Linked DNA regions of Homo sapiens. The protein of the gene in region 1 purifies or fractionates together with the protein of each later gene. This does not show direct contact. Each region holds a gene or a part of one and is shown in the gene's direction. Other genes may lie near its edges.

Region 1 (2,960 bases):
GGTCTTCCTGAAGTGCAGTCATCCCTCTCGCCATGAGTAGCCATAGAACTAAGAATGGTGATTTCTTTCTCTAAGCAGCCTCCAGTCTACAGAAAATGTGATCTGCCATGTGAATCATAGGTTATAATCTCTATGCAAAGTAATTTTGCAGTTTATTATTATAAAATTTACTTAACTGTCTGTGTATTGTTTTCTAGTTTATGTGGCATACAAGAAATGTCATGGAAAAAACAAGGCAGAAATTCCAGAGAGCAAAGAAAATGGAACGGAGCCAGAGTCATCGTTTTATAAGGCAAATGGAGGATTTCAACCTGACGAAAAGTAGACATCAAGTGGACAAAACAGACGAGTTCCAAATTACGTTCTTAAACCGTAACTATATTTAATTATTTGTTTTGGTAGGACAGTTGGCAGAAAAGAGTTAAAGTGAAAATTGGAATTTCATTGGAATTCATGTATTGGTTTCAGTACCAAGTGACTGGTGGCCCAATTCTTTAATGGGACAAATATTGTTTCCTATATATATGTATATGTTTTATATATGTATGTATACTCATATAGATATATTGTCATTGAAATATTCCCCCAAAATATTCTCAGACTAAACCTGACATAGGGAACACCGAGAATGAAAACATCTTTAACACCAAAACTGAATTCTTATGCAGAATTTCCTAGCCCATAGATGACAACCTGACTTTCTGTATGTTAAAGTAGATGTAATGAATTATTATTATTACAGTGGTCACGATTTTCTTCAGTGTTTATGATTATAAAAATTGACATGAACATCTTTCACTGACATTTTAATCATTATTTTAAAAGCTTTGCAACCTATATATTTATATAACTTTGTAATATAACATGGGCAAATATCTGACTTCTGTATTTTTAAAAAGTTGCCTTCTCCAGTGGCAGTCCAAAAGCAGAAATGAGAGGAAATTATTACAAAATAGAATTCAATAACCATATTGGATGCAGGCTCTTAACTCAGCAGGGATATCGTACATCTATTGCTCTACCTCAGGGGTCCAGTGATACCCACTAGATCTTCCAAGGAAAAACATAATTCTTTCAAACGGTGTGTATTTGGCAAAGAGCTCTTCAAATCTGGGAGAGGGACTTCCTCAAGGTTTTCCTGTGTGCAGTGGATCCACATAGCTAATATGACAGCTAGTCAGTTGACAGGGACCACCCACAGTAAGCACCATGGTCAGGGAGGTGGCAGGAGGTGCAAAGACAGAAGTATTGAGAGAAACACCAAGACTCTAGTGGAGGAATTAATTCAATGGGAGATAGTATAAAATACATAGAAAACACAAGTAACAGAAACCTGGTTGAAATGCTTAACTAGAGTCAATTAGATGTGCAGGAGTAAGTAGTATAAGAAGAATCAAGTCCGAGAGTGATCAGGAAATGAGTATTAAACAGTATTTGAAACAGAGAACGTGTCCCAGGGCCCAAAAGTCAGAAGGGCCCCACCAGCCAGGAAAGTTGTTTCAATGCTGTAAGTAGGTGTAGCCAAGGGAAGCCAGGACTATCTGATATACGGTAGCAGGGGTTTACGGCTGCCAGGGGAAAATAACTCATCAAGTGTTGGACTTTCAATTATAAGATCGAATTTAATTTCCTTTCCCTCATTCTGCAGCAATCAGAATACACAATCTTAACCACTCGGTCCTTAGTGGTTTTGTTCCATTTTGCATTGGGTATTTTCACTGCCTCATAGAGTCTATTTCAAGTGTTTTGGCTGAAAGGGCTTTTTGCATTTGCATGTTCTGAGTTCAGATTCTGCTGGTGCACCCAAGCATTATGGGAACAGGAACTCAACTTAGCTCTTCCAGTAGAGGGGTGAGGGATTCTGCTTTTCAAATTCATAACATTGATCTTTTTATGCAAGATTTCCATTTACAGTTGAATAAGTACTTCATATTTTTCCATCATTAGACAAATACAAAATGGACTAAATAATTTTAAGAGATAGTGGAGGAGAGGGGGTACAGACTTCCTTCTTAGAGAGTGTCAGAGAATATGCTCCCAATGGTGGAAAGGAAGATTTACAGTCTAGCGGCTAAGTACCTCCTACACATTTCCCATCAATCAGAAAATAGACAGGTACACTAAAGGGACCCTGAGAACTCCTCTTGTAATTTCAACACACCCAAAATCAAGGGCCTGGATGCCAGCAGCTGCAGCAAGCAGGTTTTTCCTCCCTGTTGAGCAAGACAGGTGAGCAAGATAGGACTTGGCTTTCTTACATGATGCGGTAACTTGTGACTTGAGTCTTTTTCCCTAATTTGCTAGTGGGAAGAAAAATAGCTGAGCTTTCTAAAATGATAGCTCTCTATTTTTAAATGAATTTGAAAAGTCGATTAAATTATGTATTTTATTGCCTCTGAGTATCATATTAAATGAATATTTTATTTTAAAGGCTTAAATAAATGAAAATGATTTTTGTAATGTTTGGTCTAGTTGAATCTTTGTGACTTGTGTCAAGATTTTCTCACTGCTCAGTTCTAGAGATACAAATAAGGTGGAGTTTCTCAGATATTAAATTGTTCTTTGAAAGGTGCCTGAAAGAAACTCTTAATTAAACACTCTCATAATTCGGTCTCCCACTGATACTGACTGGGATTTTCCTCCAGAAAATCATACAGGGGGAACATTAATTAAATACTCTTAAAAATAGTTTGACAATGATAGCTGATTTAAAATAATAATGAAAGTATTTCATGAACTTACAAATGAAGCCACCATCTTCTACGAAATGGTGATGTATATACATATATATACACGTGTGTGTATATTTACACACATACACAATGATAGCCTATTTAAAATAATAAAAGTATTTCACGAACTTACAAATAAAGCTTTCACCTCCTACAAAATGGTGATAAATGATATATGTATATTATACATATGACATATATATAATATTATATATGTCACATATATTA
Region 2 (3,500 bases), on another chromosome or scaffold:
ACCTTCACCACTCCTGGCGACTGGACCTCAGGTAGGATGGGCTAGAGATATAGGACTGGCTCGCGAGGCACTGTGGAGTAAAAGCAGCCAGCTCTAAAACTCCCTCATGGAAAGTAAATTTGCATGGGTACTTAGGAATAAAGCAAAAGAGACAGAAAAAAACATTAATGGTGGTTATGTCTGGGTTGTGGCATTGTGAATCTGTAAACACTGTTGAGGTTTTTCCCTTTTTTATTCATCCTTAACACACTGGAAGAATCTGGTCTAAATTTGGTGAGTAATCCATGGGCTACCCACTACAGCCCTGCTTTCCCTTGGCCCTGAAGGATGAATCTCCTCAGAATGAGGGTGTGGATGAGAGCTGTTCCTTTTTGAGGTTGCCGCTGCCTTTGAGACATTGATATCACAGGAGAACGTAGTTCTCAAAGGGCCTCTAAAATGGCCCTTTAAGAAACAGTACCCTGGCCCCTATGAACCTGCCTCTCCTTTACACGTCAGGTCCAATTCATAGCCTGCTTCCTTCATTCTAAAATACTATAAGCAAGGCCATGTAGTATCTAGAATCTATAAAAATCCAATATACTGATATTATAAACATTTTTCCATCTGGAGTTGTATCTTGTGATCTATTACTTCTTTTGTGCATAACTTCTATTTAGCTATAAAAGAAATAGGAAAATACTAAAACCTGTGACAAAAAAAAAACACAATAATCTCCAAAGGTGGTTCCTGTGGGAGATCTGCCAGCAGCAAATTGATTAAATAACTTATTTACAAAATAGGTTTTATTCAACTATAATTTTAAAAGACAGGACTAAGGAAAAAATGCTTCTATACTTAGCTTGGCCAAATATGATTTCAGTTTAAAATCCACCTATCCTGTTTCTGCTGACTATCTCAAGGTACTCTGAAAATAATATTGCATTAAACAGCATATTTCTTTCACATGCACATCATCCTAAAATTTTCCAGTTTGTAGCTGAGCAAACTTAAGTACAAAGAGTGGCCCCAGGCTTGGAAAGGAAGTCAGTATCCTGAAGGATTCTTTTGCTGAGTGGTTTTCAGCAAAAGGGGAAACAGGTCTGTAGTAGGCAGCCCATGGATTACCCATCAGATGTAGAGCAGATTCTTCCAGTATCTACCCTCATGTATCCCTTCCTTTTGGACATGTATCTCTTCCCTCTCAAGTCATCCTTTACATTTTCCTATGTAAACACTGCTGAGGTTTTTCCCTTTTTCAGTTCACTCTTAGCATAAAACTTGAAAAGGCTTTTGTGTATAAGGATTGATATCTTTGAATAGTATTGCCAAAAATTTGACAGCCTCTCTTTTAAAAGAGAAACCAAGGTGGTAAGCCTCATTTTTCATATACGCGGCTCAATTTTCTTTCAGGACCTTGGCTAGCATCTGCTTAAAACTCCTCCAACTTGCCAGTGAATTATCTAACAACCACAATCACTAGAAAAATGACTTAGATGTAATTTTGTGGTAAATTTGACCAAGAGAATTTGGAGTCTTATTTTCATGGGGCAAGTTTCTTCATCCCAGCTTTCCATTCCTTTGTTATTCAACATGTGGTGTGGGACCAGCAGCAGCATCGCCTTGGTGCCTGTAAGAAATGTCGAATCTCAGGCCCCATTCCAAACCCAGTGAATCAGAATCCACAGCTTATGATTTCTAGATTTCCAGCATAGTAATCAACAGTCTGGTGGCTAGAGGAAAAGCAATGATTGCTATATTTTATGATCCCCAAACCAAGACGTGTGATCTGACAATGGGGAAAATGATTTAATGTGGCCACCATTTTCAAAAATCTTGACCCTGTGTTTGATGCCCCCCATCCTACCCTACCCAGGACCCTGTGCACGTTGGTGCTGGGCCAGGTGTGCCTGTCCTGCTTATTAAGAATCGGATGTAAAACAAATGCCCAGGCAGAGATTGGCCTTTGCTTTCTCCAGCACTTTGTTTTATTACCAACACTTGCAGTAACAAATGCCCCTTTAAAGATGTGTTACTTTCCATCCATAATTCCCCACTTTGGCCACTCAGAGATTTTAAGGGGCTTGGAACATCTTCAGTGCTAAAACAGATCTGAACACTAACAAATGCCATCTTGCTCCGGTGTTCCAGGGCACGTAGGGGCGCCACTTCCCTGCAATCATATCAAGCTCGTTGATGTTGAGGAACTGAACTACTGGGCCTGCAAAGGAGAGGGAGAGGTAAACAAGGATTTAGCCATTCATGCCTGTGGCTGCTACATGTAGTGAGTAAAAACAAGAACAGTAGGGATGGAATGATTTTCCTTTTGCCTTGTGTATAAAGTCATTTTAAACTACTGATTAATTTGACTCAGCTCAACTCAGCATCTCCTCTCCTGTTTATGAGGCAACCAAGAGCTAGTGCTGGGACTGAGCTGGTTTAAATAAAGATTTGGAATTCCCAGATTTTTAAATTAATTAATTATTATTATTATTATTATTATTATTATTAATTTGAGACGGAGTCTCGCTCTGTCTCCCAGGCTGGAGTACAGTAGTGTGATCTCTGCTCACTGCAACCTCCGCCTCCCAGGTTCACACCATTCTCCTGCCTCAGCCTCCCAAGTAGCTGGGACTACAGGTGCCCGCCACCACACCTGGCTAATTTTTTTTGTATTTTTAGTAGAGACGGGGTTTCACCGTGTTAGACAGGATGGTCTTAATCTCCTGACTTCGTGATCCGCCCACCTCGGCCTCCCAAAGTGCTGGGATTACAGGCGTGAGCCACCGTGCCTGGCCCTTAATTAATTAAATTTTTAATAGAGTCAAGGCCTTGCTCTGCCACCCAGGCTGGAGTGCAGTGGCGTGATTATAGTCCACTGAACTCGAGACCATAGCCTCGAACTCCTGGGCTCAAGCAATTCTCCTGCTTCAGCCTCTCAAGTAGCTAGGACCACAGGCATGTGTCACCTTGCCAAGATAACTTTTTATTTTTTTTTTAGAGATTGGGTCTTGCTGTGTTGCCCAGGCTGATCTTAAACTCCTGGCCTCAAGCAATCCTTCCTGCCTCGGCTTCCCAAAGCACTGGGATTACAGGTGCTAGCCATCATGCCCAGCCCCAAATTTTGTAAAAATTCATTTTTTCCCCTAACTGTGTCATGGCCTGCTGCTGTGTGATCTGTCCCAGCAGAAACATGATCCTTTACAAATAGGCCAGATGGAGTAGATAGAGCTGGCCTGTACTTGTTCATTCCATGGGAGTAAGTGGGAATGATTGCCTGCTAATGGAGCAGGGGGCTGAAGCATCCCTGGTAGAATCAGCCAGCCATCAATATCTGTGATGAGTCCCCATCAAGTGTCACAGAGCAGCATGTGGCCAAGGCCAGAGGGCTCCTGAGGGAGAAGAGATGACAAAGGCCTAGGGTGGCCAGGGCAGGGGGGAAAGATGGGGAGGATGTTGCTTGACAGAAGGCAGGAGACAGTTCAGATGGCTGCTGGCTGTTCCTTGTCCTCTGTTTCCAT

The links. The genes of interacting proteins can lie anywhere in the genome.
Region 2: the proteins of SLC10A2 (region 1) and ACSL6 purify together in Homo sapiens (affinity purification with mass spectrometry; one large-scale study listed by BioGRID and IntAct). This does not show direct contact.

Annotation. Positions count from the first base shown.
Region 1 is NC_000013.11:103,043,498-103,046,457, reverse strand, and holds the end of SLC10A2 (ileal sodium/bile acid cotransporter), read left to right. Parts: intron 1-197; coding exon 198-325; 3' UTR 326-2,460; downstream 2,461-2,960. UniProt on the Homo sapiens protein: Plays a critical role in the sodium-dependent reabsorption of bile acids from the lumen of the small intestine. Transports various bile acids, unconjugated or conjugated, such as cholate and taurocholate.
Region 2 is NC_000005.10:131,966,659-131,970,158, reverse strand, and holds part of ACSL6 (long-chain-fatty-acid--CoA ligase 6), read left to right. Parts: coding exon 1-31; intron 32-2,130; coding exon 2,131-2,219; intron 2,220-3,500. UniProt on the Homo sapiens protein: Catalyzes the conversion of long-chain fatty acids to their active form acyl-CoA for both synthesis of cellular lipids, and degradation via beta-oxidation.